Homo sapiens: one gene and its partners. The protein of the gene in region 2 purifies or fractionates together with the protein of the main gene of each other region. This does not show direct contact. Each region holds a gene or a part of one and is shown on either strand. Other genes may lie near its edges. The genes, in order: TMEM63A, SLC45A2 and SQOR.

Region 1 (3,328 bases), on a different chromosome or scaffold from region 2:
GCCTTACCATGTGCCTTCACTAAAGCCCCAAACTCACCAGGCATTAAATATGCAGAGAAGGAAAGAGAGCAGGGAACTGAAACCAAGGGGGATGGCCATGAATCGAGACAAGACTCTATCTCCTCAACAGTTTCAAATATGCAGGTTAAAATACCCAGGGGGACCAGGATTCCTTCTCTGCCATTAATTCACAAACTTGCCTGCCATGTGATCTTAGCAAGAGATGATCAAAGATTTGCCGGGGCCCATCTGGTTGGGACTGTTACAACCAAAGCAAAAAAAAGGGCGACAAGCTCAGAGGCTGAGGGGCACAGCTTACTGTGAACGGTGGGGGCATGTGGGCCTCTGCCTCACTTCCTTTGTCACTTGCAGGCTCTTCTGTCTGCAGATAACAGCAAAAACTTGCGATGATAAACAAAACTGATCTCTGTGAACAAACACCCTCCAAACACACAGACTATTAACACCCGGAATAATAGTACCAGCTGGCACCAAGCTCCCCAGCAGCCCGAGAGAGGATGGGGTGGGGGAGTGCAGGGATGAGGGGAGGAAGGGAAGCTACACATGGCACCCAACCACCCACGCCTTTCCCATGGAGAAGCAGAATCTGGAGAAGGCTGCTGCTGTGTTGATACAGACAAGGGTGGGCGGGGTTGACAGCGAGCCCGTCCCACCATCTGTTCCTCCCAGGGCTTGACCGGGCAGTGGGGTCGGGGGCCTTTACTTTGTAGTTCAGAGGGCTGAGGTGCTTGAAGCATCCAAAGCAGGTGTGAGCCAGGCAGACCAGGATGGTGAGCAGCAGCACCAGGAAGGTGAACAGAGTGGCGGGGGCCTTCATACCTGGTGATAGAGGGTGGCTAGCCTTGGGGTGGGCAGGGAGGGGCCACCACCTACCCTCACCCTGCTGAGGAAGGGGCCGCACCTGGTGTGGAAACTGCCCGTGACTTCTCCCTCAGGCAGAAAATAAAGGTAAGGCCTAACCCCCCACCCCCACCCCTCAACTCCAGCAGCAAGGATGGTGTCTTCACAGCCAGGAACACACAGAGGGACCCACTGAATGACTGGCATCATCCCTGGTCAGATTTCAGGCACTGGGGTGCCAAGTCAATGGCAATTCTTCAGCCTCCTTGCTGGTCCGTTCCCTCCAGTCTCCAGTGCCCTGGGCTAGAGAGGATGGACCCTCCCACACCCCCAGTCTGACCGGGGCAGACGTGTCTTTCCCCCAGGAGTGTCAGTTTTCTCTCCTCCACGTCCCCACCTCTTCCATGCCAGGAGGTACAAGGAGCTGGGCCCAACCACCAGCCTCAAAGGGCAAATCTGGATCAGCTTCCCCATTTCCTCTGGTTCAGTCCCTGCACAGCTGATAAAGGCACTATCTTCTCTCCAGGGATGTATGGGACAATTGACCAGGCCTTCACAAGGGTTACACCTGCACTCGGGCTAGCTTAGGAGCCAGGCTGTCAACACCACACCCAACCAGCCCCTCACCCTGGGTATCATGTTTTGATTGGACACCTAACCAGTCCTCACTCTGGGCACCACATTCTGACTAGACATGTAACCAACCCTCATTCTGGGTACCACGTTCTGATGGGACACCTAACCAGCCCTCACTCTGGGCACCACATTCTGACTGGATGCCATGCTGATGCTGTGAAAGCAATGAGGGATCTGACTGGCTGGTGGGGATGCAGGGCTGGGAGGCCAAGGGCTGGCCCCAGGTCAGAAGGGCTGCTCACCCAGGCGCAGGAAGGAAAAGAAGTAGAGCCAGAAGAGGCACAGGATGGGGGCTGCCAAGGCCTGGTTCACAGCGGCAAAGTGGATCCCCTTCTCCAGCTTGGCTGGGAGGTAGACGAAGTAGAGGTTGTGCCGGTCCACCATGTGCTTGAGCAGGATGTAGATGAGGCCTGCAGGGGATGGGGCTGTGAGCTGGAGACCTCGCAGGGCCACACAGACACCTCTGTCCTCTTCCTCTCCGGGGCGGCTATTTTGGCAAGGAGCCAGGGCTGGGGCTGCTGCTCTACTGCCTGAACACAAAATGAGGCATCCTGCACCTCTGGCTACTAGTTTTTTTTCACTTTCTCTCTCCTACCCACTTCCTCACTTATCTGTGACCCCAAGGTGTAGGGGATCGGTCAGGGTGGTGGGAGAAAATTTAAGATAAAGTTATAGGAAATAGACACAAACCTTCTTGGAAAGCCGAGAGGTTTGCATAGCTTCAGTAAAGGGTTTGGCTGAAGGCAGCTGAATTCTCTTAAAAGCTTAGGGTGCAGATACATAGGAATGTGGGGGAGTTTACCTAAATAGCTTGTTTACTCATGTGGTCCTAAGACCAACCTTTGATCATCCACTGGTGCATGATTGCTCGCTATTCAGGGGGTCGGCAATGTTAATTACCCTCTAGTGGTGTTTACTCGAGACCTTTGTCATTTAGTCTGTACTAAATAAATGCGAACTTCGCCTGGCATTGAGGACTACACTGCAGACTCAGGCTGCAGAGCCCCTTAGCCGCACTGACAGGCAAAATATCTGTCAGTGTATGTCTGTCTGTCTGTTTTTTTGAGACAGAGTCTCTGTTGCCCAGGCTGGAGTGCAGTGGTGCGATCTCGGCTCACTGCAAGCTCCGCCTCCTGGGTTCATGCCATTCTTCTGCCTCAGCCTCTCAAGTAGCTGGGACTACGGGCGCCTGACACCATGCCCGGCTAATTTTTTATATTTTTAGTAGAGATAGGGTTTCACCATGTTAACCAGGATGGTCTCGATCTCCTGACCTCGTGATCCGCCCACCTTTGCCTCCCAAAGTGCTGGGATTACAGGCGAGAGCCACCGCACCCGGCAGTGTATGTCTTTCATCCGTCGCTGGGTCAGGGTCTGTGGGACAGACCCTGCACCAAGGGAGTCACAGTGTCTGTGATCCTGTCCCCACAGAACACTAACATTCCAGAATCATCTTGGAAAGAGGCTGTTTCACAGTTGGATGCCTGGCCTCAATTCCTCCCCAGCCCTTCCCATGCTGAGCCCCTGTATGTCAGTGCTCCCACACCCCTGGCCTTCTCCCACCCGGCTGATCCCTGCCCTCATCACAGTCAACAGAGAATGAGGCCCAAGGGTCTTACCCCAGGGGTGGCACAGGAGCACACAGGGGACCAACAGAAAGTGGGTGCTGCCTTTTCTATTATGCCAGGTTCTTTTGTTTTTTTATTTTTTATTTTTTTTGAGATGGAGTCTCGCTCATTGGTCAGGCTGGAGTGCACTGGTGCAATCTTGGCTCACTGCAACCTCTGCCTCCTGAGTTCAAGTGATTCTCCTACCTCAGCCTCCCGAGTAG
Region 2 (2,727 bases):
CTGCCACCCACACTTACCCCTTGCCACCGAGGCATAGAGGCATAGTCCAGGCAAACGTTGCCTGAAATATGGGGACTGTTGTGCAGAGGATTGGTTTAAAGTGAGAGGTGGGACTGGGCGCGGTGACTTGCGCCTGTAATCCCAGGACTTTGGGAGGCCAAGGGGGGCGGATCATGAGATCAGAAGGTCGAGACCATCCTGGCTAACATGGCGAAACCCCATCTCTACTAAAAATACAGAAAATTAGCCATGCATGGTGGTGGGCGCCTGTAGTCCCAGCTACTCGAGAGGCTGAGGCAGGAGAATGGTGTGAACCCAGGAGGCGAAGCTTGCAGTGAGCCGGGATCGTGCCACTGCACTCCAGCCTAGGTGACAGAGCAAGACTCCATCTCAAAAAAAAAAAAAAAAAGAGAGAGAGAGAGAGAGAGGTGGGCAGATTCCACGGCTGAAATCACAATAGTGGGCGTCCAATGGGCAGACCCTAAGATTCAGAGCTGCAGAAAATGTTAACTTCCTGCCATGTGCTTCACTGTCTCTGAGGTTAGGGTCATTGTCTCTTTATTGACCTAATCCACATATCTAACAAAGAGAGCGACAAAGCAACAGCCTATCAGTGCCACCGCAGACGCTGTGATCACCACGACGACAACGGTCCCGGCTGTGTTGACCAGAAAGCCCAGGCCACCTCCGACCAGGATCTGAGCCAGCTGCACCATGCATGTGAGGGTGGCGCAGTCCATGCCCTTCCCTCTCACGCTGTTGTCTGGGTCCCCTCCTGGGGCCTGCTGCCTCTGCAAAGGAAGCACAGAACCACCATTTGACCTACAAGGAACTGTCATTTAGGGCACAGGTCAGCAAAATTTTTCTGTGACCAGCCAGATAGTAAATACCTTTGGCTTCGTGGATTATACAGCCCTGGTCATAACTACTCAACTCTGCTGCTGTAGTGCAAAAGCAGGGGCAATGTGGAGCTGAGTTGGCTTTCCAATATATATTGATGGACATTATTAGCATTTGATTTCATGTAATTTTCATGAATTGGTGATGTGGAACTGAACTGAATATTGATGGGTATTAGCATTTGATTTCATGTAATTTTCACCTGTCACAAGATATTAACCTTCTTTTGAAAGTTTTTTTCAATCATTTAAACAATTAAAAGGAATTCTTAGCTCGCAGACTGTACAAAAACAAGTGGCGGGCCATAATCAATACAATGTAGTGGATACTTAATAAATATCCCATTCTTTTCCTTTCTTAGTGTTAAAAATTCAAAGATTTTAAGAAGGATGTTGAATTGCTGATGTCCTTAAGAGAAGCAACTTTAAAAAGCATTTCAATCTTTCAAAATATGGTTGCTACTTGATTAATATAATAATGTTTGGTTAATACTTGATATTTCTTCCGAACTGGCTGATAACTTTGTCATTTGTTGGGTATCGCTTATGTGCTGGGCCTGGGTTTTTTTTTTACCTGTTACTGTATTTCAACCTCACCACCTCCCTGGATGCACATGTTATTATCATTACCCCCATGGTAACAATTATAATACTAGCTATCACATTTTGAGTCTTTGTCGGGTGCTAGGGGGCACTATGCTAAGCACATCCACTAATTTGTTTGCTTTTCTATAAGGTAAATAACATTCTTTCCATTTGCCTCATGAGGAAACTGAGGGCCTGCGAGCTTAAATGATGATTTCCTACACTATTAGGCAAAAAAAAAGCATTATGCTGAAAAACGCATATTATCCTTTGAATAAGAAAGGAAAATAAGAAAACAGATTTACATTTGCTTGGTTTTTATTTAAAAATGCCGGAAAGATTAACAAAAAACTAGTAAGAGTGGTAACACGTTGGGGCTGGAGGGAGATAGTAAATGGTAAAGGGAGCACACAGTGTGCACTTTTGTGTATCATTGTGAATATATTATCTCACCTAAAAATGAACTCATTCTAAGTGCTAACTAATAAACAAGTAAATAACATCCCCAGTGTAACACAGCTTCCAAGTGAGAGAGGCAGGATTTGAATCCAGGTTTCTCTGAGCCTGAAGCGTAGGTTTTCTTCCCCCAACACCATGTAACACTCTCCTTGTAGGGACAGTTTTTTATGATGACTCTCCCATTAGCAGCAACATCCCACCTTGGTGACAATGTTTGCCAGGGGATGAGGAAAGCCACACCTCTTTTTTGAAAGGTTTTTACTCCTGGTGCACCTCTGCCCTGCTGCCAGATCAAATGATGAAAAACATGGCCAGAATTATAGTCTGATGGTTATATGTTCAGTGTTTTTGCAGTTTCATGCTGAGCTGGATTAAACTTGGAGTTATCTCTGTAGCTTTTATATCATTGCTCCAGTTAAGGAACTATAAGCCTATTTTCACAGGAAGAAAGTTGCAAATTTTGATAAGAAGAGGTGGTAATTTTAGAGTGGAAACACCAACTCTGTTATAAGCACTGCATAGGCGCTTGTTCACTAGTTGCGTTCCAAGGTTTAAATGGCACAGGTCCCGCTCAGGGCAGCAAAGTGGGGATTACCACCCATGATTCCAGCTTTCCTTCTCACACATGGGGTCTGACTTACTAAAATCTGGACTCCATTGCCTAGGACTTTCCTACCCTCAGCAAATAATGCCAAGAAATTCCACTATGTACCTCTGAAAGTTGGGGATAGGGAGACCCTTATTGTCGGTATCTAGAAATGCTGCAGGTGGCACCAGGGAGACC
Region 3 (3,656 bases), on a different chromosome or scaffold from region 2:
GAACTGGATTACTATACTGTTAACAAATAAAGAAAATGGAGCAATCTTCACTTAGCCCTGCAGGGCCATGTTGAAACTCTCCCTCTGGAGCTGTTATAAATCCAAACATTTGTTTAAATATTAAGCTGTGAAGCAAGTACACCAGTAGTGGGCCAGGACTGAGTCACTGGGGAAATAGGAACAATCTATATAGCTCTCTGATGATTCAAGGACTGGGAGCTGCACTGGGGTTCTTTAGTTCCCTCACTCTTCAGGGGCAAAACTGTAGGAATTTTCTTTGCAGAGTTACTGATTAAGAGTTGCTAATGAGGACTTTACAATGAAACAGTGGCTCCCTTTGCTCCTGAGAAATTTCCTACAAATTATCCTGACCTATCCTTATTTTACAATCAGAGAATGCATTGTAACAAGAGAACTGACAATTTCACCAAACCAATACAATTGCTAAGCAGAAAACACAAATTATATTTACATAAGGAAAATGCTTGCATTCAGATTCCAGGAAAGAAAAAATATGTCAGTCAATTGGATTATTTCAAATGAAAGTTAAGAGTTTTGACTGAATTATATAGGGGGAAAAAAAATGAAAGAACACCTTGTTTTTCTGCTTGCTGTAGCCAGTGGGAGCCTGACTTCTCACATTCTAGTACATAAAGAAGCACGACTTAGCTCCCCTTCAACCCCACCACTCATAGTTGGCCTCTGGTCAGGTAATTTTCAGGTTTCCTTTCTAGTCTGTATATGCCTGTGTGTGCCCATCTGCAGACTGTAGGACATGACTCACTGGAAAAAGAAGCCTGAGGTGGAATCAGTGTACTCCCAGTCACACAACAGGGATGAACTTGTTTTCCTGAGTTTGTTAAATGACCACATTAAAATTACTCATCAGCCTCAGGAGCATTGGGATTTCCACTCAGAGTCTCACATGCAAGGAGTTCACTGTAAACGGGACTGGCCATTTCATTCAAGTATATCATTCCTTGGAATCCAGTGTGTGAGGTCTTACCATAATGAGAAAACACTCTTTAATTTCAAGGTATACATTTGCTATTTGGACATAGTTGGAGAGACTCTAAACTCAATCCTTTAATAGTTGAGACAGAATGAGGTGTAGACAGCTCACGTCTCTTCTGTGTCCAGCTAGATGACAATGACCCGTTCCTGGTGAAGCTTTGTCTGAGGGCATATCAAGAGTCAAGAGACCCAGGACCACAGTCCAGGGAGTGCTAGGTACAGCTCTTCCTGACCCATTTTGGGCCATGCTTTCTTCATCAATGGAATAAAGGATCAGATTGGGTGGCATCAAAGGTCCCCTGCTTCTCTAAAACTTTGCTATCCTCTAAATGAGAAAAGGAAAATGGAAGTTCACAAGCAGGCTTTCAAATGGGGACGCTTGTTCTAATAACTCCTTAGATTGATCAGAGATGTGAATTTTTGTGGCAAAGAATAACAAGGCTTTAATAAGCAGGTCTGGAACATAATTAGAATGGAAACCATTCCTCTCAATCTCTCCCCGCAAGTCCCCAAATCATTTGTGGAAGTGTTGATATGTGACAGGCATTGTGCTATGCACTTTACGTAATTACTCACAAAAACCAGAGAGGTGGGAATTATTATTCCCATTTTATAAGTGAGGAAATGGAGATTGTAAGACCATGAGATAGTCATTTACCATTTTGAGTCCATTTCCCTGAGTGTAAAATAAGTGGAGGTGTCTAGTTGCCATTAAAGACCTTTCTTACTCAATGATTCAAAACAAGCTTAGATTTGATCACCTAGACCTTGAAAGGCTCATGATTTTCCTCCAAACTCAGATGGCCCCTCATCCATCTCAAGCATCATTTATGTGCTCACAGAAACACAAAACCACATTTACTAGACCCAGCACTGTCTTGAAGAGCTCTCACAATCTATACTCCAAACATGGTGGTTGTTAAAACACATCATTTTCCTATGGAGACATCATGGGCTACCTTAGAACAAATAGCCAAAGATATAAGAAAGTTATCATAGAGTGAAATCACCACAATCCCCACTTCCAGAAGCAGCCCTCCCTCCCAGAAGTCAGGAATTGGTACCAGGATACAGACATAGCCATTTTCTCTCCATTCATGTAGCTAGGGCCAGAGCTGCTGGTTCCCAGCTAGGTGGCATGAAAGTTCCCTGAGGGCTGGGCTAGGGCCAAAACATGGAGATTCATTATGATCAGAAGGGAGTCACCCCATGGTATTTAAGGATGATCATAACATCATCACCCATCACCCACCATACATTTACAAAGTACTTACTATGTACATGGCACAACAGCTAACCTAGGTCACTTGCTGAAGAGGCCAAGTTTTTCTTTTCCTAACAGTCAAAATCATGAAGCTGAATATGGCTTTAACAACTTCAGGCAAGATCCTAGGGACCACACAGGGTGTCTGTAGAAGGAAAGTACATGGGAGACTCTTCTGCATAGGTTGGGTAAGAGATCCTAAGAGCAAGTGATGGACATGTCGGGATCATGACTTAAAAGAGATGGTGCCTAGTTGTAGCCATTTTTTTTAAACCTATTGTCCATTTGGTAGAACCAGTTGTATTAATTTTCTAGGGCTGCCATAACAAAACACTATAGACTAGATGAAGTCTAGAGAACAGAAATTTATTTTCTCAAAGTTCTGGAGATTGAAAGTCCAAGACCTCAGTGCTGATGAGACTGGTTTCTCCTGGGATCTCTCTCCCTGGTTTGCAGATGGCCACCTTCTCAGTGTGCCTTTGCGTGGCCTTTTCTCTGTGCACATGTGCTCCTGACGAGTCATCTTCTTATAAGGATACTATTCATATTGGATTAGGGCTCCACCTTAATGACCTAACTTAATTTTCCTTTTTTTTTTTTCTTTCTTTCTTTTTTTGAGACAGAGTCTTGCTCTGTTGCGCAGGCTAGAATGCAGTGGCATGATAATCTTGGCTCAATGCAACTTCCTCCTCTCCGGTTCAAGCAAGTCTCATGCCTCAGCCCCCTGAGTAGTTGGAATTACAGGTGCACACTACCCCACCCAGCTAATATTTTGAATTTTTAGTAGAGACGGGGTTCCTCTATGTTGGCCAGGCTGGCCTCAAACTCCCAGCCTCAAGCGATCTGCTTACCTCGGCCTCCCAAAGTGCTGGGATTACAGGCGTGAGCCACCGTGCCTGGCTAATTATTCTTTTATTGAGACAAGGTCTTGCTATGTTGCTCAGGCTAGCCTCGAACTTCTGAGCTCAAGCAGTTCTCCCACCTCAGCCTCCCAAGTAGCTGGGGCTACAGGTGCTCACCACCACTTCTAACTAAGGCACTATCTCCTAATACAGTCACATTCTAAGATCCTGGGGGCTAGGGTTTCAATATATGAATTTGGTGAGTCCATAACACCAGTATTTGCCCTTCCCAAAGTTACAGACATAGATAGTCCCAGTGTGTTCTAAATTTCCGAGGGTTTTTTTGTTCTGTTTTGTTTTTTTCCACAAAGTTCTCTACCTCCTGTCCCAATTTAGCACTTTCTCAATGTAAATCACAGGGATGGTTGGCTAGATCTACTTTTCTTTATTATTATTACCACCTACATCTGGGGATTACAAAGATTTTTAAGGCTGGGATTAAGAAGCAACTAGTTGGCTTCCAGCCAGGTCTGGGC

What was found.
Region 1: the proteins of SLC45A2 (region 2) and TMEM63A purify together in Homo sapiens (affinity purification with mass spectrometry, with the first as the bait; one large-scale study listed by BioGRID). This does not show direct contact.
Region 3: the proteins of SLC45A2 (region 2) and SQOR purify together in Homo sapiens (affinity purification with mass spectrometry; 2 studies listed by BioGRID and IntAct, with this or other methods). This does not show direct contact.

Annotation. Positions count from the first base shown.
Region 1 is NC_000001.11:225,848,173-225,851,500, forward strand, and holds part of TMEM63A (mechanosensitive cation channel TMEM63A), read right to left. Parts: intron 1,908-3,328; coding exon 1,740-1,907; intron 841-1,739; coding exon 725-840; intron 383-724; coding exon 320-382; intron 1-319. UniProt on the Homo sapiens protein: Mechanosensitive cation channel with low conductance and high activation threshold. In contrast to TMEM63B, does not show phospholipid scramblase activity. Acts as a regulator of lysosomal morphology by mediating lysosomal mechanosensitivity.
Region 2 is NC_000005.10:33,944,082-33,946,808, forward strand, and holds the end of SLC45A2 (membrane-associated transporter protein), read right to left. Parts: exon of another isoform or gene 1,785-2,727; intron 792-1,784; coding exon 567-791; 3' UTR 542-566; downstream 1-541. UniProt on the Homo sapiens protein: Proton-associated glucose and sucrose transporter. May be able to transport also fructose. Expressed at a late melanosome maturation stage where functions as proton/glucose exporter which increase lumenal pH by decreasing glycolysis.
Region 3 is NC_000015.10:45,637,965-45,641,620, reverse strand, and holds part of SQOR (sulfide:quinone oxidoreductase, mitochondrial), read right to left. Parts: intron 1-3,656. UniProt on the Homo sapiens protein: Catalyzes the oxidation of hydrogen sulfide with the help of a quinone, such as ubiquinone-10, giving rise to thiosulfate and ultimately to sulfane (molecular sulfur) atoms.